Homo sapiens: one gene and its partners. The protein of the gene in region 1 purifies or fractionates together with the protein of each later gene. This does not show direct contact. Each region holds a gene or a part of one and is shown on either strand. Other genes may lie near its edges. The genes, in order: PAK5, GMPPA, SUPT5H and METAP1D.

Region 1 (7,303 bases):
GAATGTTAAAATATTCATTTATGTCTGATGGGTGGAACCTTCACTGAAGTTGTCCATAAAAGGCAAAGACTGTTAGCAAAAACTCGGTAACCCAGCAGTTTAGCCTATAAATCTATATTGTAAATGTTGAGAGGTTACAAGTGCCATAGTCACTTGTGAATGAGTATGAGGTTCTGTGGACACACTTGACATTTCAGAATGTTCTCCTTGCCTGAGATAACCAGTAGGGTGTGCCTAACAGGTGGACATCTGGTCCCTCGGGATCATGGTGATAGAAATGATTGATGGCGAGCCCCCCTACTTCAATGAGCCTCCCCTCCAGGCGATGCGGAGGATCCGGGACAGTTTACCTCCAAGAGTGAAGGACCTACACAAGGTGAGAAACAGCAGCTGTTGCTAAAGTTCAGAATAGTTTTTGGATTTTCCTGTATCTCTCTGGTTTTTAAGACTGGCTTACCACATCCAGCAGGAAGATCCTGGTTTATGAGCATGGACTTTGGAAATAGTCACTTAGGTTTGAATCTCTGTTCTTCTATTCGTTTACTGGGCAAGTGACTCAGCCTTTCCTATGCCAAAGTTCTTCATCTGTAAAATGGGTTATGATTGGCCTGTATCCCAAAGGGTTGGTTAGAAGAGTAAATCAGGTGCTCTATGCCATACTCATTCATTCAGCATCTATTACATGCTGGGGACATCTAATAGCTTGGGATGTCACCGTGCATGACCCCAGCTTTTCTGACTCTGGGGTCTAGACTCTGCATTCTAGTTGGGGAAACAGATAGTAAACCATAAACAAACAAATAAATAAAATAATTTCAGAGTGTGGTACATACTATGAAAGAAAAACATACTGTGATGTGACAGAGTGTGCAGGAGAAGGGATTGAAAGCTGGTTGTATGAGTCTGTTTTTACACTACTATAAAGAAATACCCAAGACTGAGTAATTTACAAATAAAGAAGGTTTAATTAACTCACAGTTCCACATGCCTGGAGAGGCCTCAGGATACTTACAATCATGGCAGAAGGCGAAGGGGAAGCAAGGCATGTCTTACATGGTGGCAGGAGAGAGAGAGCGCACAGGGGAAATGCCAGACACTTATAAAACTATCAGCTCTCATGATAATTCCCTCACTATCTTGAGAATAACATGGGGTAAACTGCCCCCATGACCCAATTACCTTCCACCAAGTCCCTCCCTTGACATGTGAGGATTACAATATGAGGTGAGATTTGAGTGGGCACAGAGAGCCAAACCCTATCACTGATTTAAGCTGAAGAGTGAAGGAAGCCCTTTCTAGGGAGGGATCAAACGAGCTGGGACCTGAATAGGAAGAAGGTACCAGCCATGCAAAGATCTTGGAGAAAAAGGTCCCAGGCACGGGGAGCATCAAGTGGAAAGGCCTTAAGCCAAGAAAGAAGGCTTACATTGCTGGAGTAAAGTCAGAAAGGGGAAAAAGGTAGGTCTTGTCAGAGAGATGGGCAGGAGCTAGATTGTACAGGGCAATGAAGGTCATGGTTAATATAATGCATGTAAGAGACCGAGTGGGGTCTTTTCTGTTTTCCAAGGATTGCCAATTAGGACGAGCTCAGAAAATAATGATGCTTCATCCAAGAATCACCACTGTAGGAGCTGCCAGATTTCCAAAGGACTTGCTCAGAGGATCATTTCTGCAGGACTACTACTATAAACACTGGCCCCATACACACCTCTCTTCCTATCTTATGACAATAAAAGAGAGTGTGTGGCTGCCTTTTGGAGGAGAATTATTTGTAATGGTAATATCTCCTCCTTCCTCACCCCTAAATCTTAGGGAACAGCCCCAGTAGCATCACTCATATAGGTTGTGTGGACCTACAAAAACATAAACAAAAAAAGAGAGATTGAAATTTTTACTGGATTGGACTAAGTCTAAATAATGAAAAGTGGCTGGGTGTGGTGGCTCACGCCTGTAATCCCAGCACTCTGGAAGGCCGAGGTGGGCGGATCACGAGGTCAGGAGATGGAGACCATCCTGGCTAACACGGTGAAACCCCATCTCCACTAAAAATACAAAAAATTAGCCAAGCATGGTGGCGGGTGCCTGTAGTCCCAGCTACTCAGGAGGCTGAGGCAGGAGAATGGCGTGAACCTGGGAGGCAGAGCTTGCAGTGAGCCCAGATCGCACCACTGCACTCCAGCCTAGGTGACACAGCGAGACTACGTCTCCAAAAAAAAAAAAAAAAGTGACTAAAAATGTATCATATGAAAGTAGTCTCACACCCAGTGAGTGCCAATGTTCTTCAAAACCATGTACAAGAACAACTTTAATCCTAATGGTTTCAAAAAAACTGGAAACCAGTCCGAGGTTGTTTCCCAAATGGATAATGTGTGGTATAATTGGACAGTGAATACTACACAGTAATTTAAAAGATATAACTTTTGCCACACGTCGGAGATGAATCTCACAGATACAACACTGAGTGAAAGAAGCCAGATAGAGAAGAAATCAAATATATGACTCCATTTTGGTAAAGTACAAAAGTAAGCAAAACTAAGTTATGCTATAAATTAAAATAGTGGTGACCTTTTGCAGGGAGATAGGGGTTGGCAGGAAGGAAACCTAAAAGTAGCTTCCTAGAGTGGTAGAAAAGTTCTATATCTTGATAGGAGTGGAAAGTAAATAGGGGTAAATGTATGTAAAAATCCATTGAGCCACACTCTTAGTATTTGTGCAGCGGAACCTGGGCATGCTGGCACATGCTTGTACTCCCAGCTACTCAGGAGGCTGAGGTGGGAGGATCATTTGAGCACAGGAGTTTGAGCCTGGGCAACATAGTGAGACCTCATCTCTAAATATATACATAAAGTAAGATATACCTTTAAAAGGAAAATTACAAGACCTTCAAAGAAAAAAATGAGATGTGTTCGATATCCTTACAGAAGCTTGTTTCTCTTAAAGAAAGGGGTTCCACAGAGCCTGTGTGGTTGCAGTTGTTAGAAAAATAAAACGGCTCCCTGTTTATACTATGCTTCATCAAGCACGTGTGACCAGCACCTGCACATACTAAATATTTTGTAATAGCTGCTCTTATCACTGTGATTGCCACTGTTATTTTATGTAGTAAATAAGTTTTCATTCTTAGTTGAGCTGTCATTTACACCTATTATTTCACACTTGAAAAAGGTAAGGAAAACACGAAATGTTAACAAAGACAAGACATGCTTTTGCTTTCACAACATCTTTCTCCTTAAGGTAACTTTCTGGAATTTGAAGTTGTTGATAGGATGAATGGGGAAAACATTTTGGGGACTGGGTTAGGTGTCTGTGTTAGTCCTCAGATTGGTATCTGTGTGTTTTCACAGGTTTCTTCAGTGCTCCGGGGATTCCTAGACTTGATGTTGGTGAGGGAGCCCTCTCAGAGAGCAACAGCCCAGGAACTCCTCGGACATCCATTCTTAAAACTAGCAGGTCCACCGTCTTGCATCGTCCCCCTCATGAGACAATACAGGCATCACTGAGCAGAGGATTCGTGTAGGTGGCAAAGCTAGATGAGGACATGAGAATAATTCAGGAGAACAAAAGGAAACACAGAACATGCAAAAGGCCTGTGCATTCTAGACCAGCCAATTGGTGGGACAGCGTGATGACCGGCAGGGTTCAACAGACCAGGGCATCTTCTTGTGTCTTAAACAGGCATCTCTCCACTGACAGCCGGTGTGGTCACTTGGAGCACGGCTTTAATAAGTCATTATTATATTTTTCAGCCCTTCATCCAGCAAATCAGAAGGACTCAGTACAAACTCCGTTATGATATATCCTAGCCACATGCAGGGTAACATGTAGGATTTTCTATATTGAAAGAATACTTTTCTGGCAAAAAAAAAAAAAAAAGAAAGAAAGGAAAACAAAAAGCACTTTTTTCTTAATGGTAGCAGTATAATGTATTTTGCAACGAATTTGTAATTTTTCTGTACGATAGTTTTGATAATTTATAGTACTTTGATGTCATGTAGCCATTGTATCAGTTGAAGTAATACTTGTTTACTAGAGGAGTTTGAACAAAGCCTTTCCTACTTTTTTATCCCTTTAAGAGAACCAATGATTCTTTAGGAACTTTGAATACTGAATGACTCTCAATCACCGTCAGCTTTAGTAAAATCTCTTTCTTATCCTAACAAGTGTCTTATTTGGTGGAAGAAGAATTAAGAGTGATGGTGATGGTGTGCACGTTTCATTAATCCAACCAAAAATAATGAAATAAAATTTGAGCCACAGTATACCACTCCTTGGGATAAAGTTAAATATTTTTAAAGATCACATTTTCCATGAACGCCTCTAGTAGCAAACCATTCTTTTGCACACCACAATGTTTCCCTCAGTGCCCTTTCTCAAATGGGTACAATGTTCCCTTGTGGCCAAATTTCCCTCCCAGGGAGCAATTTCAGTGCTAGGATCATTGGATTCAGTTCCCAAAATAGAATGTTTCAGTGAGACCATGAGAATTCCAGGCTCACAAAGGGAGAGGAGAGAACAGGGCAAGACGTTTGGTTTCATTTGTCACCATTTTTAAAACTCTGTATGCTAGCACACCAAACTCTTGTCTATATTTACCTTTGTACCACAGTATTAATCGCTATTGTTCATGTATCGTGCTGGAAGTCTGAACTGACTCTAGAGGATGAATTAGCAAGAGGGTATTTTACCAGGTATGATCTGACTTCAGTTGTGCCCATGTTATAATGTGTTTCCGACATAGGAGAGTCGTGCTGCTGTCTAGATCTTCTTGAATGTTGATAAAAATGAATGACTACTACAATACATTTTGTGTTGCTTGTTGGATGAATTTGCATGTTAACTGTAGGCCAATATAGATTTGCCTTTAAAACTCTGGAAGAGCTACATAGTCATCATTAGTTTCTATTAATTATGCATCAGACAAAAGCCATTTGTTACCAAACTGGGAAAACAGAGGCTTTTCTTAACTATTTCACATACTGTAACAAATATGAATTTAAATTTGTGATAGCGCTCTGGTTGCTCTAAGCATAATTAAGAATTTTTGTAATTAATAGGTTGCTAATTATTTATCACTGCTAAAAAGGAAAAAAGGCATAAAATGACCTTCTACTGATTAGATTTTCAGTTTTCTTTCAAACTGGAAATGCCTCCATAAATATGATCTATGATTTTGCTTCATAAAACAGCAAATCAATGTTTTATGTAAAATATTAAAGCATTAATATAAATATGTGAGAATAAAAACAATCTAAATCCAGAAAATGGCAGTCCTAAATGTTCATGAGACAGATTGTATTAATTTAACCAGGACTATGTAGAAGTAGAAAGAAAAGAAAAAGAAAATCTTTTTTAAACCAGAATAAACATTAAAAACTATTGCAGAAAATAGTGGATTTTGGATTCCAAACATTTTCGACAGTGTAATGGAAATTTTTCTGTAATTTTCTTACCATCGGGTATTTTTTAAAGTATTCATTGAGTTTACCAAAAGTTACTGTAGCTTAAAAGGTTTTGTGAGCACTAACTATTGGCAGAAACTGCATTTGCAAATAAAAATAAATGTTTGCCTTTTCCCCATTGTGTTATTGGAAACAGTGATTTCTCAAATTTATTTTATTGAGTAACCAAGAATGATTTCTTTGTGATCTTGGGGAGTGCAAATGAGTTGGTACAAAGTTGTATGTAACATTGTGATGACATGACGTAAAGACAAATATATCCATCCCTAGGGATTGTAAAGAGTGTAAGATGGTGATGTCGATACCACTACTGAAAAAAAAATTACTAAATTCTGGAAGGCCACGTTCAAGGAAAGCCAGGTTCAGGGCTGAAGACTCTCATTCTACTTCCCTGTTCCAAAGATGCAAAACTGATCTGAGGGCTTTTTTAAAAATTAATTAATTAATTAATTATTATACCTTAAGTTCTGGGTTACATGTGCAGAACATGCAGTTTTGTTACATAGGTGTACACCTCTCGTGGTAGTTTGCTGCACCCATCAACCCATCACCTACATTAGATATTTCTCCTAATGTTATCTCTCCCCTAACCACCCACACCCTCACAGGCCCCAGTGTGTGACGTTCCCTTCCCTATGTCCATGTGTTCTCATTGTTCAACTCCCACTTATTAGTGAAAACATACGGTGTTTGGTTTTCTGTTCTTATGATAGTTTGCTGAGAATGATGGTTTCCAGCTTCATCCGTGTCCCTGCAAAGACATGAACTCATCTTTTTTTATGGCTGCATAGTATTCCATGGTGTATATGTGCCACATTTTCTTTATCCAGTCTATTATTGATGGACATTTGGGTTGGTTCTAAGTCTTTGCTATTGTGAATAGTGCCACAATAAACATACGTGTGCATGTGTATTTATAATAGAACCTGGATTCAAGAGGTCGTGTTGAGAGCTCTCTGGGAGCCTAGAAGATAATTTGGGCTCTCTCCTCCACTTTGGGAGACAAGGGGGACATTAACATTGATCTCGTGAAGCTGGAGGATGGGGGAACTTTTATATACACAGCCTATTTTCCATCCAGAAATGTTGGAAGGTAAAAACCCTCAGGAAGTAGCCTGAGCTAGCAGGATGAAAAAAAGGCATTGTATATCACATGTCAGGGCAGACAAAGGTGGAGGCAACCTCCCCTGGACAGGTCTCCTCTGCCTTTACTGGGCATGGAAGAAGACATGGAGTTCCCTTGAGTATGTTTGATGGGACATGGAGAGGACAGCAGGGAATGTGTCAAACCACTTAACTAAGTAACAGGATGTCCAACTTGCAGAGTGCTTTGGAGGGGTGCACCATGGGGGCAACTGAAGGGAAATATGGCTGCTTTTCTGCATGGAGACAGGGTCAAGGTGGAGCTGACCCTTACTCTAAAAACCACATATGTCATCTACACAAAGACCACTCCGAACAGCAGAAGCTGTAGTTTTCAGTGGAACCAAAATGAGACTCAGGCCTCTCCCTTTCCTCCAATAGCATCTCCAAGGCAGCTGACTACAGCCAGCTAGGTTACTGGAACCTCCGCTCCCCACTAGTCCACATAGAATAGGGCCATGTGTTAGTGTGAGACCCCATGATTTGAAGAAGGTATTTAAGAGAAAGAAAGGGGGAATACAAGAGCACACCATGTATCCTGCACTGCCTCCCAGTTGCTACCTCTTCCTCTAGTAGAAGTTTCACTTGAGCAAAGGAGAGATGTATTATCTTTGAATTAGAATGAGATTGATTTTTAAACTAGACTAGACAGATGGAATCAGACTGAATGGCAGTCACGTCCCCTTTATCCCTGGGGAAGA
Region 2 (7,695 bases), on another chromosome or scaffold:
CTTAATGATAACCAAGCACAAATTCATATCCTTGATCACATTGTTGCTCATTTCTTTATTGCTTTTCGTATTGAGCCAGGCAAGGTTTTGGTTTGAATTCAGTCTCTGCCTGCTGTGAGGTCTGCAACAAATAACACACCCTCTCTGACACTCAGTTTCCTTATGTGTAAAATGGGGGTGATTAGACCTACCTTGTTGGGTGGTGAAGCTTAGAAATGATATTTGTAAAATGCCTAGTACAACGCAGACCCTTGATAAATGGTACCCTTACCTCATGCTGATCTCAAGCTTAGGCTGACAGATAATAAAAATGGCCGGGGGGGAGGGGGCGGGGTGGAAATGGATTAATGCAGCTTGGTAGGCAAAGTCTTTCTTAGAGTGAGTCCCAGTTCAGGTTGGTGGGGGTAATAATTGATTGAAAGATCAGGCCTGGCATGGTAGCTCATGTCTGTAATCCCAACGCTTTTTGAGGCCGAGTCAGGAGGATCGCTTGAGGCCAGGAGTTCTAGCCTAGCTTTGGCAACATCAAGAGACCCCTTCTCTACAAAAAGTTTAAAAATTAGCTAGATGTGATGGCCTGGCTGTAGTCCTAGCTGCTCTAGAGGCTGAGGCAGGTGGTGACATGGCTGTAGTCTTCAATACTCAGGAGGCTGAGGTGGGAGGATCGCTTGAGCCCAGGACGTGGAGGCTGCAGTGAGCCAAAATCATGCCACTGCACTCCAGCCTGGGCAACAGAGCGAGACCCTTTTTCACAAAAATAAAACAAAACGAAAAAAGATCAGGCCTCCGACTTCCTCCAAATTCCTCATTGTCCAGAGGAGAAAATAGCCCAGAGTGGTGAGTGCCCTGGGGCCCCACAGCTGAGACTGAAACTGGTTTCTGGACTTTGGGCCAGCACCAAGGATTTCCCCAACATCCCCTCCTATTAGATATTCTTCATCCCAGCCTCTTCCCTTGTCCTCAGGTCCCTGGAATGCAGGAGATTCTGCTCATTGGCTTCTACCAACCTGATGAGCCCCTCACCCAGTTCCTAGAAGCCGCCCAGCAGGAGTTTAACCTTCCAGTCAGGTGTTTGTGCACACACTCGTATATGGGGGGGTGGGGATGCCCTAGGCCTCTGAGTTCTTGGAAGTGGGTTGAGTCAGCATTTGCTGGAGTTCATCCTCGCCTACTAGAAGGATTCTTGTTTGGACATCAATGAATCTCTGAGTATATAGAGTTTCTCTGTGGGCCTTGGGCAGGAGTAGTCCTGGGAGCAAGCGGTGGCGGTCAGGTGCCCTGGCTCATGGTATCTGTTTCCTAAGATCCACTGAGCTGGCTCTCGGGTCCCTGGGGACAGGTACCTGCAGGAATTTGCCCCCCTAGGCACAGGGGGTGGTCTTTACCATTTTCGAGACCAGATCCTGGCTGGGAGCCCCGAGGCATTCTTCGTGCTCAATGCTGATGTCTGCTCCGACTTCCCCTTGAGTGCTATGTTGGAAGCCCACCGACGCCAGCGTCACCCTTTCTTACTCCTTGGCACTACGGTGAGGGGGTCAGGAGGGCTGGAGGGTGTAGAGGAGGTGATCCCAAGAGCTTCCCGGAATTCAGGGTGTTGGGGAGGCAGGGGCGCCCCGGGAGTTGGTGTGGGAGCTGGCGTCAGGAGGGAGATGCGCTGCTCTGGCAGCATGGAGGTGTTAGTGGAGACCCCGAGCCCTCTGGCTGTTCAGAAGTAGGGAGGGGGAGGGCAGCTGTCAGTTTCCACCCTTGCTGAAGGCCTGTCAGTGGCAGAGCTGCATGCCAGGTGCTGTAGCGGAGGGAAAGAAAGAAAAAACAGACGTGGCTGCCCTGGAGCAGGCGGGTCACTGTCTCGGGTGTGTCTGTCTTTCAGGCTAACAGGACGCAATCCCTCAACTACGGCTGCATCGTTGAGAATCCACAGACACACGAGGTGAGAGCAGAGTGGGGGCTGGGTGGGTGCCTACTCTGTGTCATCATCCCCTCTACCTCAGGCCTCTAGAGAATGCTGGCACAGTATGGGGTGGGCTCTAGTCTTGTCAGACAGGTGAGACACTCCCGATTAATCATCTTATATCCCTTTAAGAGAGATTGACCAGGGGGAGGGGGGGAATGGTTAATTTCCCTGGGGGTGGTGCTGTAATAAATGTATGCACAGTGCATGATGGGAACACCAAGGGGGCCCCAACCCAGCCTTGCTGGGGTGGGAGTAGAGAGGGCTTCCTGGAGGAAGCAAGGTCTGAGCAGAGTCCCATTTGTCTAGATGACAAAGGAGACAGGAAGGTACTACAGGCAGAGGGAATGGCAGGTATAAAGGCCTGGAGGCAGGAAGTAACATACCAGAAGCAGGAGCATGATAGGCAGGGCAGCAGGGCTCTGTCCTGTTTTGTGAAACTCCCTTCTCCTAAGCCCCTTGACTTTCACATAACCCTCCCTCCTTTATTTATTTATGTATGTATGTGTTTATTTATTTATTTTGAGACAGAGTCTCACTTTGTCTTCCAGGCTGGAGTGCAGTGGCATGATCTTGGGTCACTGCATCCTCGACCTCCCAGGTTTAAGCCATCCTCCCACTTCAGCCCCTCAAGTAGCTGGGACTATAGGCATGAGCCACCATGCCCAGCTGATTTTTTTTTTTTTTTGAGACAGAGTCTCACTCTGTTGCCCAGGCTGGAGTGCAGTGGTGCGATCTTGGCTCACTGCAGCCTCTGCCTCCTGGGTTCATGCCGTTCTCCTGCCTCAGCCTCCTGAGTAGCTGGGATTACAGGCAGGTGCCAGGCTAATTTTTGTATTTTTAGTAGAGACAGGCTTTCGTCATACTGCCCAGGCTGGTCTCGAACTCCGGAGCTCAAGTGATCCACCTACTTCAGCCTTCCAAAGTGCTAGGATTATAGGCATGAGCCACCACCATACCTGGCGTCACATACTCCTTTTATTTGTTCGTGCTTTAATATAAAACATACATATAAACACGCACACACACATGCATGTACACACCTACACACATATAGTTTTGTGCTCAGCACCAGGTAGCTGTGAGAGAAACAGAGCCAAATGGGTGCAGTCCCTGCCTCTTGGTTACTGTGAGTCTAATAGGAGTGACAGAATCAAAAGGCAACCTTTGCAAATGATACAATGCCATGGGTGAGGCGTGGCCAGAGTTCAGGAGTGCCCAGGCATGAACAGCTAACTCGGGCCAGCAAGAGAGGACGCACAGAGAGAGTGACAGTGTCAACTGGGTTTGGAAAGGTGGGCTTTCCAGATGAAGAGATGAGAAAGGCCATTCCAGGCACAGGCATGCAGTCGGGTGGAAATGCGTCTGAGAGGTAGGTGGTGGGGAGGATCAGGCAGGGAAAGCCATGGACTTTGGATTTATCTGAAGCTGAATCAGGTGAAGGGCAGTCATCTCAGGGTTTAAAGCCAGGCAGCAGTAGGATGCGGATGCGCACTGCATTTTAGCCAGGCCACCCTGGCAGCAGGGAGGAGAGGCAAGAAGGGCCTAGAAATCAGAGGGTCTTAGGGGACTGTGGCGGTAGTCCCTTCTTCTACTGAACCCAGCCTGCTCTGTCCTCAGGTATTGCACTATGTGGAGAAACCCAGCACATTTATCAGTGACATCATCAACTGCGGCATCTACCTCTTTTCTCCTGAAGCCTTGAAGCCTCTTCGGGATGTCTTCCAGCGTAATCAGCAGGATGGGCAATTGTGAGGCAGGCCCCATAGCCCTGTGACCCCAAGTACCCCCAGTCACGGACCCCAACACATACCAGTCTCTGCAGGCTCCATCTCAACTTGCTCACCTTCCTCCTCCCCTCTCCCTTCTCCACTTGCCATCTCCAGCAGAGCCTCCTGAGTCCCTCCCCTTCTAACCTCATTCTGTCCCTCTTCCTTATCCATCCCAGTTCCTCCTCTGTCACTGCCTGCCCACTCCCCTTCTGGTCCATTTCTCCTAAGCCCTGAGTGTCCCAGAGACGTCTTTCAGAACAGACAGCAACACACAGTTGGGCGCACACATGCTCGGGTGCAGACGTGTGCACGTGCACACACAGACAGACATGCATACTCTCAGGCTGAGGCTCCCCTTGGAACATAGCACCAGAGCCCTGCTCACCAGTCCCAGGGTCTTCCCTCCTGGGGCTAGAAGCTGTTCCCTTCTAGGGATCCTTGCCTTAACCCCCCACCGCCCCATCTAAGGCCTCCTCTGCTCATAGCCATTTCTCACTCCCACCCGTGTCTCTGCTTCCCTCTCCATCTCTCCTGGCCTCTCTGTCTCTGTCTCTGCTGAGCTGGCATCTCTACCATCTCTCTCTCCCTTTCTTTCTGTGACTGTCTCTGCCCTCACCAGCTGCCTTGCTCTGGGGTGAGTCTGTCTGTGTTTCATTCCATCCAATGAGGGGGAGGGTAACTTGGAGGGGGTAAAGGGCTGAATGGGGATGAGAATGTGAAAATGGGGGGAACTCCTTATGGAAATGGGGCAGGGATGGGAAGCAGGCCTCTGCCTGGGGCTCCCTTGTGATAGCACCCACCCAAGTGGGGGCTGGGTGGGAGAGGTTCCTGGGATGTGAGCAGCCACATCCCAGAGAGGGCCGAACCAGACCTGGAGAGAGGGGCTTAGAGAGGTGGTGGGAATCCTCCTACTCCTGTCCCTGGGAGACTGTGTTAGCCCCACAGTCGGGGCTCAGCTGGGGGACTAATGTCAGCATTCTTCCTCTCTGCCAGGGAGGACTCACCAGGCTTGTGGCCAGGGGCAGGTACCATCCGCCTAGAGCAGGATGTGTTTTCAGCCCTGGCAGGGCAGGGCCAGATATACGTGCATCTCACTGATGGTATCTGGAGTCAGATCAAGTCCGCAGGGTATGGAAGGCTGGGTCCCCTGGGGATTGAAATTTTGGGGTGGTGGGCACAGGCCCTGCTGACCCCTGAGCCCCTGTCCCCCTTGCGGTCCCCAGTTCAGCCCTCTACGCCTCCCGCCTCTACCTGAGCCGATACCAGGACACTCACCCAGAACGGCTGGCCAAGCACACCCCAGGGGGCCCATGGATCCGAGGTACCCAGCCTGCCCCAATTCCTAACCTTTGGCTTCCACCCCAGCCCTCTGAACCAGGATTCTTGACCTCGAGTCCAGAGTTAAAGCCTCAATCCCTGCCCCTTCCTGATCAAATTCGGTTTGGGATATTTGCCCCCAGGGCCTCTCTTCTGCTTCTAGGGAATGTGTACATCCACCCGACCGCCAAGGTGGCCCCCTCGGCTGTGGTGAGCACTGGTCCCAGCCCCAGGGAGGGAAGGGTGGTGGTCGGATGGATGGAGGGTGCCCACGCTGCCTGAGTTCTGGGTGCCGGTTTCTTCACTTTGTCACAGCCTATTGTGTGTCCTCGAGCAGGTCACTTATGCCTTATCTGTTCTAGAAGGGAGTTGGGTTTGGGGATCCTCCAAGTCCCTCCAGGGCTTATGGTGTGTGCTTCTCTCCACAGCTGGGCCCCAACGTCTCCATCGGGAAGGGGGTGACCGTGGGTGAGGGTGTGCGGCTCCGGGAGAGCATCGTCCTCCATGGAGCCACTTTGCAGGTAGGTACCAGCATACACAGCAGCATGTGACACCCCAAGAGGCTGCGGGGAGGGCCCAGGCATCCCCCCAAGAACAGAGAAGGGTGAACGCCGTGGGCTCTGCATCTGGCCACACCTCACACCCTCCGGTTCCTGCTGCCTCCTGCCTCTTCCCCTTACCTTTCACTGTCCTCTTTGGCAGGAGCACACGTGTGTTCTGCATAGCATCGTGGGCTGGGGGAGCACCGTGGGACGCTGGGCCCGCGTGGAGGGTACCCCCAGTGACCCTAACCCCAACGATCCCCGAGCCCGCATGGACAGTGAGAGCCTCTTCAAGGACGGGAAGCTGCTGCCTGCTATCACCATCCTGGGTATGGCTTCCTGGGGGCCAGGGCTGGGGGAACCCCTCAGCTGATGGCCAGTGGCCCCGGGGAGCATTCGTTCCTCTGTGTGCACGCGTGTTTCTTCTTTTAGCAAACAGTTACCAAGGGCCTGCTGTGTGCCAGGCCCTGTGTGAGTCACCGGGGGCATGAGACCAGGGGCACAGATGGGCAGGAGGGCTCCCTCCCTGCTGGCAGTGGCCCCCAGCTCCCTGCCCCTGTCTCCCCTCCCATGACCTCCCCTGGTGCCCTCATCCATGCTGCAGGCTGCCGAGTCCGGATCCCTGCCGAGGTGCTCATCCTGAACTCGATTGTTCTGCCACACAAGGAGCTGAGCCGAAGCTTCACCAACCAGATCATCCTCTGAGTAGGGCTGCCAGAAGGCCCCCAGCTCCTACCCACTCCCCTTGAGGCTGCTGCCTGCTTGGCCAGCCTCTGTCCAGAAAGGACCAGAGAAAGCCAGGCTGGATCGTCACATGCCGGGGAGCAATGTGGATGGCCTGGGGACTCCTGGGTTTTCTCCCTCCCGACTCCCTAATAAACCCCGTGAACCTTGGAGCCAGCACAGACTGTACTTATGTCTGGGCTGGGGGTGGGGGCGGAAGCGGGGCAGCTGAGTCAGGCCCCCCCACATTAGCATTTAAATTGGAGTCGTTGCTGTGGGCTCATGAATAATGAATCTGGAGCCCTGGTAAATCTCCCCCTCCCACTGCCTCAGCCTCGTGCTGCTCGGGAGGAAGGCCCTCTAGGCTCCCCTGCCAGCCTGGTCCCCCCCTTCACCCCTGCCTCCCTGCCTCCCTGTTCCTCCTCACCGGGCCTGGCTCAGGCCCCCATGTGCAAGGATTCCGAAGGGAAGGGTGAAGGATTTTGGTTGGGCAGCAGGCAGAGGAACTGGGGCCACAGGCCTAGAGGCTGATCCCCACAGCCCGCTCTGCTCGGTTCCCGCTGAGCCCAGCCCTGGCCGGTTTTCCGCTTTGCCAGCTCCATCTGCTCCCAGCTTGGCTTTTGGCAGGGTGGGGGTTTTGCCTCTGCCCGAGGCCTCATGTCTCTGTCTTCTACTCCCCTGGCAGGCTGGGTGGGCCTGAGCTGGTGCCATTCTCTTCGGAAGCACAGTGGGAGGTACCCTGTTCTGGGAAGGCCCTCACCACCTCCTGTCCCCCTGGCCCTGCCCTTTGGTAGGTCTCAGCCCTCCTCTCCCAGCCATCTCTCATGTTTGCCCATGACCCCCATGTGCCCCTCTTGGTGCCCCCCTTCCCCAGCTGTGGGTGTGGAGCTGTGTTGCCAGATGAGCTGGTAATGATCGTAATCTGCTAATTGAGAGGAATCTAATTACCCGAAGAGAATGGGGGGTGCAGGGCATGGGTGGGAGAAAGGAGGGGGTCCTGGCAGCAGGCAGGGGTGGCAGGCAGCAGGGTGCTGGGGCCTTGTTATCAGCACCAGGCTCTGGGACAGAGCCCAGGGTTTCATAGCTTCATAGCCTGGCAGTTAGGAAGCTGCGCCTTCTCAGGAGCTGGACTGAGGTTGACTTGGGGATTGGGCCAAATGTGACCTCCCAGGCCCCTCAGGTCCCGTGGGCTGTGTGCCAGCATGTAGGGAACGATCTACACAGTGTGGGGTTTAGCAGTCCTGACCTATAAGCTGTCCCTAGTTCCTCAGTTCCTCCTGTCCTGGCCTCCAGCCCAGACCTTCATTATCTCTCTTCATGGGAGTGGGAGGGGGCTGCAGGTCCCCACTCTGGGCTGGGGTCATCACCCCAAGGAAGGGGCTGGGAGAGG
Region 3 (9,096 bases), on another chromosome or scaffold:
CTTCGGAAGAGATGGCGAATCTCCCCTTCTCGGCCCTAGCCGGGGAGAGAAGGGTCACTCTCTTGACCATGTCCCCCTCACCCCCAACCAACCAAATTCTTTCAGATGCAGCTCAAAAGCAGGAACTTGTACTCACTGAGTGGGGGCCATCAATGACCTTAACGATGTCTTTCACATGGATGTTGTTCTGCTCTGAGTCCAAGGCCACAGCAAAGCGGTTGTCCTTCTTCCGGGTCACAGCCTGATGTCTGACAGTCACCACCTTCCCGTACATGTTCAGCACCTACAGAGGGAGAGCAGGGAGGCTGTGGGGGTGAGAATGGGAAGGGGAGACACGGGGCAGGGGTTCCCTAAAGTGGGATAATCCTTCCTTGTGGGAGACAGTCCCAAGCTCCACAAGGCATCTCAATTCCCTGGCTGCGGGGCAGGCAGGCAGAGTGCCACCCTTTAGGTACTGGGTCAACCAAAAATGTTCCCAGTCATTCTAAAACACCCTTTGGAAGGAGACTCCACCCCCGATTGGGCAACAGGGACCTGAGAGATGGAAGAAGGGGCTGATAGCAACATTGTTCATCCATCATTCTGTGTCAGGCCCCGTAAGATTTCACTGAAGCCTCAAAACTTCCTCTGAGGTGGATTCTGTCATGATTTCCATCTTACAGAGGGAAACTCAGGCTCAGAGAGGGTGAGTCACTAGCCCAGGGTCAGACAGCACAGGAGCAACAAAGCCAAGATGTGGATGTGGAGTCCAGGATCCTAAGTACTGTGCTCCATGACTCCCACATCCATGAGGAAGGAGCAAAGGCAGGAGGGCACATGTGGCACTCCATCCTTGAGCGAGCAACAGCCACCAGGGTACAGATCTAACCTCAGGGAATCATTCACTATGAACAAAGTAGACGCTGCTCTCGTTTCCATTTTATAGGGTGTGAAAACAGGCAAGGGGAGGGATCAATGACTTGCCATGTGCCCACTATCAGCCATTCAGATGTAAGTGACAGAGCCAGATCTGCAACCCAGAGCAGTCTGGGGGCTCTGCCACCTCCCAGGATGAGGGGTTGAGGGACAGGAAGCCTCCTAAAAGCAAGTCCCCGCCACAGAGCACAACACACACACCTGGAAGGTCTCCCGTTCTAGTCGCACGATGACACCCACAGTCTGGGGATCCAGCTGCACCAGCTCGCCCCATTCATGCTGGCCCCCAACATCCACACCTGATGCTGTCTCTGAGCAGAGCTGCAGGTCCCGGGGGAGCACCTTCAGCTGCCAGGGATGGTGAAAGGGGTGAGGCCCAGTCCAGGTGGCTCGCCTACCTGGGTCTCCTCTTGGCACGTGCACCCTTCCCCGACCCTTCTATCCACCTACCTCATGCATGGTGAGGTCAGAGAACAGGATAACGAAATTCTCCTCCACCCGCACAATGAGGCCTGTGTCGCCCTCGAATCGGCCAGCAATCACCTTCACGTGGTCCCCCATCTTGAAGTATTTTCTAAGTTCCTGGGCTGGGAACTCCAACATGTCCTGGGGGATTGGGTGTGGGGACAACAAACAGGTGAAGGGAGACCACCACAACCTGCCTGCCCCTCCTGTCTTCAGAATCTACGCATGTTCTCAAAAACCCCACTTCAGGCTCTTACCACCCACCCCAGACTACCTTAGTCCACCTGGACGACCCCTCAGACTGCCCCAGAAACAGCTGACCCCAGACACAGGACACCAACCTGGACAACCTTTACCCCAGCCCGCCCTCAAGACACACGATGCCTACCTATACCCACACAGAGAGCCTGCCCCTCAGACACAGGACCCCCGACTGGACAGCTCCTCAGCCCCACCCGGAGACAGCCTCACCCCACACATCACACTGGGCCTGCACAACCCCTCAGACATACACCAGACACAGACAAACACACACCCCGCTCTAAGCAAACAAAGTCAAGCCTCAGATTACTCCTTGGTTAATCACACTCTCAACCCAGTACTACCCAGATATCTTGCTTTTCAGAAACAAAAGATAGACCAAGTCACTCTCCAGAGACAGACACCACCAGGCAGGCCTGCTGCCCACCGACCCTGAGCTGCACTCAGACAGAGCCTCTCAGGCACCTGAGAATGCTAGAAGGGCCTCAACTTACCCTCCTGGAAACCAGGTGTCACCAGGCACACCACCGCCTCGACAGCCACATACAGTCAGATGTGCCTGAACACTCCAACCCCTGCCCGAGAACACCGGGCACCCACCTTGAGGTCCTCATGCTTGGGCATGATGGTGATCTTGTTGCCATCCACGCTGAGGATCTTGCCCTGCAGGTTGATGAGCTCACCCTCACAGACCTCCACGTTGTCCCCAGGTTGGAAGTTGTGCTCCCGCTCCTTCCCTGCAGGGGCAGTCGTAGGGCTGACTCGGGGGTTGCCACCATGGGCCGCCCCTGCTCCTTGGCCCAGGTTATAGAGGGGGATCAAATACCTGTGCTCTCAGTCACCACCTCCAGGTCAATGCCCTCTGGCTGGTCCTCAAACTTTTCCAGCTCAGAGAGTGTTGGCTTCACACCCTCCGTGATCTAAGCCCCCAGCGGTGAGGGGAAGAGAAGGAAATGGACCGAGGTCAGTGCAACAGCCCAGCTGAGTGGGCTGAGTGGGTCCTAGGGGAATAATTCTCCTAGGGAACACTCCTAACTTGAGGAGTGGGACAGAACCAGATAACCCACAGCCCAGGGCATCACCTGCAGGAGAACACTCACACCACCCCCATTACCAACACCCCTCTGGGACCCTCACCACAGCAGACATGGCGAAGCTCTTGAACAGAAAGCCCTTCCGGCTGTAACGGTTCCCCTCAAAGATGAGGAAGTCACCATCAGAGGCAACATCACCCCCCAGGGACCTGGAATTTGATGGGGGAGAGAAGATTAGAAGGGAGAGTCAAGAAGAAAATCTTGCTGTACCTCAGTCTTCTCAGCTGGCAACAGAAGGAGAGGACCACAGGCAGACTGACCCATCCCATCCCAGCACACACCCTCTTGGCAGCAGTGACTTCTCACAAACCCCAAAGGCCCGCCTCCCACCTCCCTGCACTCCTCCACCCATTCCCTGATTTATCTTTGAGCACCGATCACCATCTGACAATCTAGTGTTTGACCTGTCCCCCTAACTAGCATGTCAGCTCCAGAAGGTCAGGGATGTAACATTCACTAAATTTCACCAAGAATAGTGCCCAGTACACAGAAAGTATGCAGTAAACATTAGCTGAACAAAATAACAGTTTCAGACAATGATACCAGTGAATATTCGCAGAGCGCTCAGCCTGGCCTGCACACTCATGACCTCACAGGCTCTTCCCCAAATCTGTGGCATCAGTAACTGCTCATCATTTCCAGGTGAGGGAATGCAGGCTCAGGAAGGTCACATCACATGCCCAAGGGTGCCAAGCCACAGTCTTGACAGGATTCAAAAGCAGGCAGGTGGGACTCCCAAGCCTGCAGCTCCCGGCCCCAAATGTGGAGTGGCGGCCGCTTAGTGCCTGTTCCGAGTCTCCGGGGTGGGGAAGGAGCCTCCTTCATGGAGGAGCAGGTCAAGTTCCTCCTGCGCTCATGCAATCGCCTTCTCCCATGGTGAATCTGGGAGAGGGGCCAGCATGCTCTGCTGGGCATGCTGGGGTACTTGGTCAGCTGGCTTGCTGGGGGGTAAGGGAGCACTAGGGTTTGTTCTTTGCAAAGAGAGGTTCAGGTGAGTCGAAACCAGTGGTATAAATGGGTCCGAACTCAGGCAGGTGAAGTATTAGCAAGGCCCTTGGGTGCAGACTCAAAGGTGCATTCCACAGCTCTTCCTTTATCTGAAGGAAAACCTGACTGGCTGAATCACACACAATTAGTTCTAGAACAGGACCAGAGGGAAGAGTGTCACTGGCACCTCTCGTTTCTCCATGTCCTCCTCTCCTGCCCTCCCTGCCGGAGCCCCCAGTTGGCCCTGGGATGTTGAAATTCCTGGGCTGCTCCAATTCTCTACCCAGCTAGGGAGTCTGGGGGGCATCCTGAGGGAAAGGCACTCCATACCCCCCCATCTCAAGTGGGCATAAGCAGATCAGGAAAGGAGACTTTCTAAAGCCTGACATAGTCCATGAATCCCATTTCAATATATCACACCATGGATCACACTTACTACGTGCCAAGGGCATTCTGAGTACATATGCATACTAATTTATTTAATTCTCACTATAATCTATAATCTGAGGAAGCAGAGGTTGTTTTCTTTTTTTTTGAGACGGAGTCTCGCTCTGTCACCCAGGCTGGAGTGCAGTGGCACGATCTCGGCTCACTGCAATTTCTGCCTCGTGGGTTTAAGCGATTCTCCTGCCTCAGCCTCCCAAGTAGCTTGGATTACAGGAGCTGACCACAACCCTTGGCTAATTTTTGTATTTTTAGTAGAGACAAGGTTTCACCATGTTGGCCAGGCTGGTCTTGAACTCCTGACCTCAAGTGATCCGCCCGCCTCGGCCTCCCAAAGCGCTGGGATTATAGGTGTGAGCCATCACGCCCAGCCTCATCAATCTTTTTAAATATTTTTTTAACTTTTTTCTTTTTATTATTATTATTATTTTAAAAGATGGGATCTCATTATGTTGCCCAGGCTGGTCTCGAACTCCTTGCCTCAAGCAAGCCTCCTGCCTTAGCCTTCCAAAGTGCTCCCTCCCGCTGCGCCCAGCCTCATCAATCTTTATAGCAGAAGAAACTGAGGCACAGGGATGTGAAGTGACTTGCCTGAGGCTATACTGCCAAGCTAACCAATTCACAGGCTAAACCTGTGGCGGGGCCACCCCTGGGGAGGAACCTGCAAAAGGCACATTCTACACACCGGCCCTGGGGACCCAGCCCAGCCAGTCCCCAAGGACACGCACCTGATCTTCTCAGCATCAAACAGCCTCTGTGGAGGCCGCTTAAACTTCTTCCTTTTGGCAAACCAGTCTTTCTATGGAGGAAAGGGGCATGGGTGGGAAGGGTGAGGGAGGGGGCTTGGCCACCAGTGGGATCGAGCACACTCCCTCCCCCCCAGGCCACAGATTCCCCTGAGTACCAAGCTCATGCGGGCCTTGATGCGATCGTAGTCGATGCGTGGGATCATCTTCAGGGAGATGGTGTTCTGGCTGGGCTCCACGTAGTCCACCTGAGCAGGGCGAGCAGAAGGTCAGCAGGGCCCCACTCTCCTCCCTGACCCCAGACACAAGAAGGGTCAGGAGATGCTAGGAAGGAGAAGGGACGCAGGATGGTGGGGAAGAAACCAGGCTGCTGACCACTCCCAAAAGTCCCACGCTAGCTTGTCTGTCCCCTCAACTCTGGCACTGAGTAGCCACTGCCTGCTTGGTATCTCCACCTGGATGTCTAAAGGTCCCTCAAATCCAGGACGACCGCAGCCAAACCGCTGATTCCCCCAAACCTGCCGCCTCCCACTCCATTCTTCCCTCTGCTCAGGCACACAACCTGGGAGCCACTCTTGACTCCTTTGTTTCTCTTACACCCACACCCGACCCGTTGGCAAATTCCATCAGCTCTGCCTTCAAAATACCTGACCTCTTCCCCTCCTCCACTGCAGTCTCAGCATTCCAAATCCAAAAACCCAAAATGCTCAAAAATAGGAAACCCTGTGAGCACCAACATGATGCTCGAAGGAAATGCTCACTCTTGGATTTTCAGATTTGGGATGCTCAACCGGTAAGTATAATGCAAATATTCCAAAAGCTGAAAAAATCTGAAATCTGAAAAACACCTGTGGTCTCAAGAATTCAGGTTAGAGACACTCAACGTGTATTAGGGTCTTGGTCCTATCCCACCAGCACTGCCATCTGGGTGGGATGTGCTACAGCAGCAGCCTCCTCCCTGGTCTCCACGCTCTTGCCCATGGCCCCCTCCAGGCTATTCCCGGGTTTCTCAGCCTTGGCACTATTGACTTTTTGGGCCAGGTAATTTTTTGTTGTGGGCAGCCATCCTGTGCATTGGAGGATGTGTGTGTCTAGCATTTCTGGCTTTAACCTGCTAGATGCCATAATCGTCAACCCCCTCCCCAGCTGACATAACCAAAAATGTCTCCAGACGTTACCAAATGTCCCCTGGGGAAACATCACCCTGGCTTGAGAACCAGTGGTCTAGTCTCAACACAGTCACCAGAGAAATCTTATTAACATTGAAGTCTGCCTGTGTCCCTTACAGCCCTCCCATCCTACGCCAGTAAACACCAAAGCTCTCCAATGGGCCGCAGGCCCTCGTGAGCTCCCTAACTCATCTCACGCCATCCCTGCTGTAGCCAGTGACTGTGCCATCCTATCTCACAGGCCACTCCTGCTGCCTACAACACTCCTCCCCAAGAGCTCCACATGCCTCACGCCCTCCGATCCTTCAGACCTTTACTCAACACGCCTGGGAATGTGCACAGAAGACAGCCAACCGTTTCCTGTGTGCTCACAAAACCCAGGCTCTGCTTCAACTCATCTGAGTGGGATTCTATTCTCTGCAGCACAAAGAGGGTGGGAAGGACAAAAGGAAAGGAAGGGAGAACAGAATGGAGGGACCCTGACCCCCATGCCACCCCGCCCCGGGCACCTGAGCAATGTCATCCTTGTAGATGCCCCGCTTGAGGCGGACCCAGGACTTTGGTTTCAGGTTGGCCACCTCCTTCACCACTTTGAGCACGTCTGTCATCTCCTTGATGGGCACCATCTGCTGGTTCCAGTAGCCAAGCCGCAGGTTGCCCACCCCCTCAATGGCCTGCTTCACGTGGGTCTGCTTGTAGGCCTCCACGTAGATGTAGCCCTTCACATGCTCTGGTGCCACTACTGACTTGATCTGCAGGGGCTGCAGGGTGAGCCGGTGGAAGGAGGAAACAGTGAGACACAACGGCTAATAACAGAAATGACTGCCACTCATCAGCAGTCCCTCTTCTAGGAATTTATTCCACAGAAACACACTGGCACAATGACATGGACACAAAGGTGTTCCCTGCAGAATTATTTATCACAGCAAACAAACCAGACTAAAAATTTTAAAAATATCCAGAAACAGTAACTAGTTAACTTATGGCTTAATGTACCATGAAATACAATGTTGCAGTTAAAGAATACAAAAACTAGCTGGGTGTGATGGCACATGCCTGTAGTCCCAGCTACTCAGGAGGCTGAGCAGGGAGGACTGCTTGAGCCCGGGAGGTTGAGGCTGCAGTGAGCTGAGATCGCACCACTGCACTCCAGCCTGGGCAACAGAGTGAAACCCTGTCTCTTAAAAATAAAAAATAAAATAAAAATTAGATTAACCTGTATGTACTAATATAGAAAGCTATCCAACATATGTTCTGTGTAAAAAAGCAACTAGAGCCGGGCACGGTGGCTCATGCTTGTAATCCCAGCACTTTGGGAGGCCGAGGCGGGTGGATCACTTGGGGTCAAGAGTTCAAGACCAGCCTGACCAACACGGAGAAACCCTGTCTCTACTAAAAATATCCAAGATTAGCCGGGTGTGGTGGCACATGCCTGTCATCCCAGCTACACGGGAGGCTGAGGCAGAAGAGTCGCTTGAACCCGGGAGGTGGAGGTTGCGGTAAGCTGAGATCGCACCATTGCACTCCAGTCTGGGCAATAAGAGCAAAACTCCGTCTCAAAAAAAAAAAAAAAGCAACTAGAAGAAGAACCAAGAAAGGAGTGCTTACATCAGACAAAATATACTTTAAGACAAAAATTGCTACCAGAGACAACAAAAAACATTTTGTAACAATAAAAAGGTCAATCCATCAGGAAGATAGAATTACAAATGTATATGAAACTAACAGAGCCTCAAAATACATGAAGCAGAAACTAATGAAAATGAAGGAAGAAACTGACAACTCAACAGTAACAATCACTGACTGCAATACCCTGCTTTCAATCATGGATAGAGCTAGACCCAAGATCAACAAGGAAAGAGAACACTTGAGCAACACTGTAAGCCACCTAAACCTAATAGCCAGCTATAGACAGAACATTTCGTCTTCACTTTCCACTTATTAAGCGGAAATGGGAAAAAAGAACACTCCATCTAACAACAGCAGAATGCACTTTCTTCTCAAGGGCATATTAAACTTTCCAGAATAAACCACAGGTTAGGCCATAAAACACGTCTCAGTAAACATAAAAGAACTAAAATCATATAAAGTATATTCTCCATCCATATGTAATGAAGTTAAAAACCAACAGAAAGATACTTAGGAAATTCACAAATACATGGCAACACACTCCTAGATACCAAAACTTATGAGATTTGAAAAAAGCCATGCTTAGAAGTAAATGTATAGCTGTAAATACCAACTAAAAGAAAAAAAAGGCCAGGAGCGGTGGCTCATGCCTGTAATCCCAGCACTTTGGGAGGCCGAGGCAGGAGGATCACTTGAGGTCGGGAGTTCAATACCAGCCTGGCCAACATGGTGAAACCTTGCCTCTACTAAAAATACAAAAATTAAGGCCGGTTGGCCAGGCGCAGTGGGTTCATGCCTGTAATCCCAGCACTTTGGGAGGCTGAGGGGTGGATCATCTGAGGTCAGGAGTTCAAGGTCAGCCTGGCCAACATGGTGAAACCCCATCTCTACTAAAAATACCAAAAAAAAAAAAAAAAAAAAAATTAGCTGGGCATGGTGGTGGGTGCCTGTAATCCCAGCTACTTGGGAGGCTGAGGCAGGAGAATCGCTTGAACCCGGGAGGTGCAGGTTGCGGTGAGCCGAGATCGCATCATTGCACTCCAGCCTGGGCAACGGTGCGAGACTCTGTCTCAAAAAAAAAAAAAAAAAAGAAAATTAAGGCTGGGCACAGTGGCTCACGCCTGTAATCCCAACACTTTGGGAGGCCGAGGTGGGCCGATCACCTGAGGTCAGGAGTTCGAGACCAGCCTGGCCAACATGCTGAAACCCTATCTCTACTAAAAACACAAAAATTAGCCAGGCGTGGTGTCGGGTGCCTGTAATCCCAGCTACTTGGGAGATTGAGACAGGAGAATCAGTTGAGCCTGGGAGGCAGTGGTTGCAGTGGGCCAAGACTGCACCATTACATTCTAGCCTGGGCAAGAAGAGTAAAACTCCATCTCAAAA
Region 4 (5,074 bases), on another chromosome or scaffold:
ACTTGATTGGTCCATAGAAGGACTACTCTTTCGGACCCATGCCCTCGAGGATCGCTGGACACCCAGCAGGTCCAAACCCTCTTTGGACCAAAGAGCCCCCACCTAGGCAGCTCAAGAGGTTCAGGTGAGAGTGCAGAAACGGCTTGTCAGCCTTGTGCCCTACCTGGTGCCAATGTCTGGAGTGAAGCTATTTGAAGTCAGGCCCCTGCTCCCCACAACCTGCACCAAAGGAGGCTTCCCTCCTTTGCATCCTTCCCCAGGACTTCTTTGAGTGAGGGGTGTGGGCAAGGCCCAGGACCCAGTAGTAGGCTGGGAGACCTAGTAGCCTGGGGGACAGGGAGAGGGGGCGAGGAAGCCTGACGTGTCTGAAACAACCAGGCTGCCCCTGCCAGGCCTTGGAAAACTCTTCTGGGGGAGTCTTGACCCAGAGCACAGATAATGCAAAGACTCAGGCCCAGTAGCCCCGTGTTTAACTCCTGGTCACTATCCAGGACTCCAGAAATCTCCACCCTTCCTTCTCTAAAAGAAGAGAAATAAAACGACCAAGTTTTTTAAAGGGGCCTGACCCCTGTAATCTGTTTTTTTTTTCTGTCCTCCCCATTTCCTATTCTCACCCCCCATGTTTTTTGTTTTGCAGCAAACGACAGTGATCTACCCATGGAGGAGGGCATGGCATTCACTATAGGTAAATTGAGCTCCTCTTCCGAGTGAGTGCGTAGCTCCTGGTGGAAGCTTTTGCCACTGGCCTAGGCCCGGCAGTCCGGTGAAGGACCAATAAAGCCAATCAGTGTAATGAAATAATTCGGATGCACTGGAAATCTGATTAAATAATATCCTCAAGCCCCATCTTCCTAAATCAGATACTTACCGACACATTTAGGAGAAGGCAGCCATCCAACCTCTAATTCTGTTACCAGCATAATGTGGTGTTGGGTTTTTTGTTTTGTTTTGTTTTTTCATTAACACCCAGTAACTAGACACGATTATGTCCCTTGCTCCCTGTCAGCAAGTGGCATGTGCTCTCTGGTGGCCCGTTCCTGGCTGATCCTGTGATTGGTATCACCACCAAATTCCAGTCACCTAGGGCCGTAAAGACATCCTGTTTCTGACTGTGGGACTTAATGGAGAAGCAATTAGAGTGAAATAAGAAAATTGTTATTTGCTGATGAATGAACATCTCGAGCATGTTTTTAAAATTTAAATATTTTTTTAAAAATTGGTATTTATAAGAGGGACTGGTGTTTGGGTGGTTATTATCCACGGGGTCCTAATTAAAGCTTGATTAAAATGCCCTTCTTTCTCTAAAAAATTACGAACTAGGCAACTTCATACATTTTGAATGGCGCAGTGTTTCCTCTTCCAACTGTTTAGTTTGTAGTATACTATGTAAGCAACATCAATTATCAACCCTTGCAAGATGACAACATGAGCCTGTGGGGGAAGCACTTGAGGGGAGGGAGGAGAAACTTCTCTTTTTTAATAATCAGCCGGAAACAATGTTTAACAAGAATCTGATGAGGTCACTGCAGTAAATATTTTTCCTCTTACAGAGCCAATCATCACGGAGGGATCCCCTGAATTTAAAGTCCTGGAGGATGCATGGACTGTGGTCTCCCTAGACAATCAAAGGTGTTTGCTTTCTGCTCTGTTGCTTTTAAATTGTATGGGAAAGGAAGATTGGTCCGACGGCGCGCTTGTGGCCCGGCCGGAGCTTGCGTGCGCGTTCTGACGGCTGGGTGCTGTGTTACAGGTCGGCGCAGTTCGAGCACACGGTTCTGATCACGTCGAGGGGCGCGCAGATCCTGACCAAACTACCCCATGAGGCCTGAGGAGCCGCCCGAAGGTCGCGGTGACCTGGTGCCTTTTTAAATAAATTGCTGAAATTTGGCTGGAGAACTTTTAGAAGAAACAGGGAAATGACCGGTGGTGCGGTAACCTGCGTGGCTCCTGATAGCGTTTGGAAGAACGCGGGGGAGACTGAAGAGCAACTGGGAACTCGGATCTGAAGCCCTGCTGGGGTCGCGCGGCTTTGGAAAAACAAATCCTGGCCCTGGACTCGGTTTCCCAGCGCGGTCAACGCATCTGGAGGGGACTGGAGGAAACCCCCTTGTTGGAAGAGATTCCAAGAGAAGCACGGTTTTCTCTTTCCCTTGCCCTGACTGTTGGAGTAAAAAACCTCTTAAATCCATTGTATCAGAGGTCCTTACCTCTCTGACAGTTACAGTGATCTTTGTATCTGAACTTTGCACGTCTGCCGAAAAATCCGAACCTGTTGACTGGGATTTTTAAGAATCCGTTTCTCCCTTTTGTGTATTCCATATTGGCCGGCCCCAAGGATGCTCGCAGAAGCCAGCCCCCAACCCCAGCCCTTCCGTATCTTTCCCCTCCATCGCGGCTTTGCGATGAAAGATTAGCCCGCGAACAGAGGCATTGATTACAAACATGTCCTTGGCAGTGGACTCTGGGCCTGGCCATTCTTCAGGTTTCTGTCAATCCAGAAACGCGACTTTCCTGGACCCCTGCGGCTCTTCCTCCCCCGCCCACATCCAGCCCTCCAAGGCCAGTCCAGAGGTGAAGTTTGAGGCCCTCCCCCCACCCACCCCACACGCACGCACGCACGCTAGACCGTTTGCTGCACTAGGAATTCGAGCTTGGGCCCCACTCGCCCAGGTGTGAACAGTGGCTGATTAGTGGGCGGTCTAGTCTCTAAAATGACCCCTCCCCAGACTGGCCCTTCTCGCATCGGGACCCGCGCTTGCACGCTGCAGGAGCCGCAAACGTCAGCTGTTCTGGAAACCGAGAGGGTCCCAGAGAGAGGAGATACGGGCGCATTTGAGAGCAAGGGCCTACTTGGCCGGGACTGAAGCTTGCGAGTTGAGCTCCAGTTCGGCCGGCAGTTCCATCCCGCTTCAGGAACAGGAATCCAAGGGCCCACGCTCTGTCTGCCAAGGGCCATTCCTGCCCGGAGCACCCTCCTTTCCCTTGCGCTTGCTCTCCGGTACCTGTTCCTCACCTGAGCTCAAGGGCAGGGAGAGGCCGGGCCTCTGGCAGTCCACGAAGGAAGCCGTCTGCCTTCGGTTATGATTTTAGGAACAAGTCCAACGAGGGTGTTCAAGCAGTTAATGGTTGTGCTAACTCTTGTTTCTACTGAAGCGGGTTTTGCAAAGCTGACATCCCTTAAAGATAACTTGGGCTTTCGGAAGCGGCAAGGAAATGGCACCTGTAGTTGCCAGGACAGGTGGTGTCCTCGGCCAGGACTAAGAGCCAGCTCATCTTTGTAACATTCATAATACGGGAAACTGAGGACCAGGTGGCTCGGAAAAGAGATGAGTTCCAGCTTTTACCTAACACAGGGTTCTCTCGTCGTCCCCCAACCCCTCCAGCTCGGCTTCTTTGTGTCCAGGGTTGTAGATTTTTGGATAGAGGTGTTTCTGATTCTAGTGAGTCTGAGAACTGGAAAAGACCAAGGAGGGGTTGATGATTTACAAGGTCCATAGAAAAACTTTTTGTGTGGTCGGAAGTTGGCCAAGCAGAGGCCCACAGCCTGATGCTACTGCCCCCCACCCCCCCAAAGATCTGAATTCCCTAAAGATCAAGAGGGTTCAGCTGGCCTTGGGAGATGTTTGCTGGAGAATGACTTCAGTTTTCTCCTAAGGCAATCAGATTGCAACCATTAGCATTGTATCTTATCTGCAAATCAGTTTACTCCGAGGTTCCCCAAGGATAGTTTTATTAGGACCACAGGACTTTACTAACCACTGAGGTAACACGCTGCTTGTGCAGCAATTATTTTGAGGTGGAGGTATTTATGGGACAAGTTTATAATTCCATTTATTAAAGGGACTAACCTAAAGTGTGTGGGTGTATATATATATGTGTGTATGTGTGTACCAACACTCAGCAGCTCCCTAAAGAACTCCCTTTAACATGCTTTGAAGTTGAGATTAGGAAGTAGATTTAAAAATACCTCGTCCACGCCTTCCTGTCCCTCTTCCAGCTGAACTGGCCGAAAACCTCACCCAGAGCCACTGGGATTCCAGCCAAGAGTGGCTGCGGCTAACACCACCAGGACCTCCTGGTCCTGAGGTGACTCCAGTAGGCTCCATGAGGAATCCCGGACCCTCAGGACAAATGGGAGAGTTTTGTTTTCTCTCAGAGTGAGGGCAGGCAACAATTTAAGCAAACCGGCATTCAGAACAGGTGTCACCTTAGCAGTAGGGGGTGGGAGGGATCCACTCCAAGTTCACTGAGTGCAGCTAAGATCCCACATTGAGAAACCAGCTACCGCCAGCGGCTCGGCATCAGAGGGCCCGCGCTCAGTGCTCCTCCCTAGACCTTTCTGAGCTAAGAAATAATTCCGGAGTGTAGCCATCTCTTGCTCACACACAACCCGCTTCTAAATTAAGCAAGGCTCTGAAACAGTATCCCGAGGGGCTCATGCCGGACTTTTGTTCCAAGAAGGCAACCAGGTCCCCTGTGCTACCGCAAAAGTCTTTGATCCTTTTCCAGCTGTGGACACAGAGCACCCAAGAGACTGTCGCGATGTGCGGCCGTCTCTCCCCTTCCCCCACCTTGCAAGTCTCTGGAATACACTGTCCCTAGGCGGCCCGGCCGTCGGGTTTCCTCACGCCTTGCCCTGAGCTCCGGGAATTACCAATTCCGCTTTCCCCGGTCCCAACCCCGACCCCGCGCCCGCCGCGGCGATCACTTACTTGGGCAAGGCCCTCAGGGCACGCGCGAGAGACCTGGGGCCCGGCAGTATCCGAGCGACTGTGCTGGGCACACGGCGTGGCACTCCATACCCTAAAACAGGCACTAGGAAGGAGCAATTAAAACCACAAGTGCGACACAGAAATCAGGACGAGCCGAGCGGCTCCCGGAGTTGCCTGGTGGCGGAATCATTAGCTGGCTGTTGCTACAAAGCCTCACCGTGTGGTTCGGTGATTAAGAAAAAAAAAATCTTTTAAACGTTGGCAAACCCGTTATTGGTTTGGCGTATTGGGTTTTTTTTGCTTTTGCTTTTCTTTTTGCTCCAACCACTCTGCCTGAAATATTTCTGCCCCCAGCATTGTGC

What was found.
Region 2: the proteins of PAK5 (region 1) and GMPPA purify together in Homo sapiens (affinity purification with mass spectrometry; 2 studies listed by BioGRID and IntAct, with this or other methods). This does not show direct contact.
Region 3: the proteins of PAK5 (region 1) and SUPT5H purify together in Homo sapiens (affinity purification with mass spectrometry; 2 studies listed by BioGRID and IntAct, with this or other methods). This does not show direct contact.
Region 4: the proteins of PAK5 (region 1) and METAP1D purify together in Homo sapiens (affinity purification with mass spectrometry; 2 studies listed by BioGRID and IntAct, with this or other methods). This does not show direct contact.

Annotation. Positions count from the first base shown.
Region 1 is NC_000020.11:9,535,659-9,542,961, reverse strand, and holds the end of PAK5 (serine/threonine-protein kinase PAK 5), read left to right. Parts: intron 1-241; coding exon 242-376; intron 377-3,344; coding exon 3,345-3,500; 3' UTR 3,501-5,592; downstream 5,593-7,303.
Region 2 is NC_000002.12:219,500,512-219,508,206, forward strand, and holds the end of GMPPA (mannose-1-phosphate guanylyltransferase regulatory subunit alpha), read left to right. Parts: intron 1-964; coding exon 965-1,068; intron 1,069-1,339; coding exon 1,340-1,526; intron 1,527-1,870; coding exon 1,871-1,930; intron 1,931-3,571; coding exon 3,572-3,702; intron 3,703-4,342; coding exon of another isoform or gene 4,343-4,357; intron 4,358-4,716; coding exon 4,717-4,851; intron 4,852-4,946; coding exon 4,947-5,044; coding exon of another isoform or gene 5,045-5,203; coding exon 5,204-5,250; intron 5,251-5,468; coding exon 5,469-5,561; intron 5,562-5,742; coding exon 5,743-5,911; intron 5,912-6,186; coding exon 6,187-6,287; 3' UTR 6,288-6,478; downstream 6,479-7,695. UniProt on the Homo sapiens protein: Regulatory subunit of the GMPPA-GMPPB mannose-1-phosphate guanylyltransferase complex; reduces the catalytic activity of GMPPB when part of the complex. Mediates allosteric feedback inhibition of GMPPB catalytic activity upon binding GDP-alpha-D-mannose.
Region 3 is NC_000019.10:39,462,544-39,471,639, reverse strand, and holds part of SUPT5H (transcription elongation factor SPT5), read right to left. Parts: intron 6,843-9,096; coding exon 6,591-6,842; intron 5,161-6,590; coding exon 5,071-5,160; intron 4,966-5,070; coding exon 4,895-4,965; intron 3,419-4,894; exon of another isoform or gene 3,347-3,418; intron 2,885-3,346; coding exon 2,779-2,884; intron 2,562-2,778; coding exon 2,468-2,561; intron 2,379-2,467; coding exon 2,242-2,378; intron 1,522-2,241; coding exon 1,366-1,521; intron 1,264-1,365; coding exon 1,117-1,263; intron 284-1,116; coding exon 137-283; intron 36-136; coding exon 1-35. UniProt on the Homo sapiens protein: Component of the DRB sensitivity-inducing factor complex (DSIF complex), which regulates mRNA processing and transcription elongation by RNA polymerase II.
Region 4 is NC_000002.12:172,078,578-172,083,651, forward strand, and holds the end of METAP1D (methionine aminopeptidase 1D, mitochondrial isoform 1 precursor), read left to right. Parts: intron 1-637; coding exon 638-685; intron 686-1,550; coding exon 1,551-1,629; intron 1,630-1,750; coding exon 1,751-1,829; 3' UTR 1,830-3,853; downstream 3,854-5,074. UniProt on the Homo sapiens protein: Removes the N-terminal methionine from nascent proteins. The N-terminal methionine is often cleaved when the second residue in the primary sequence is small and uncharged (Met-Ala-, Cys, Gly, Pro, Ser, Thr, or Val).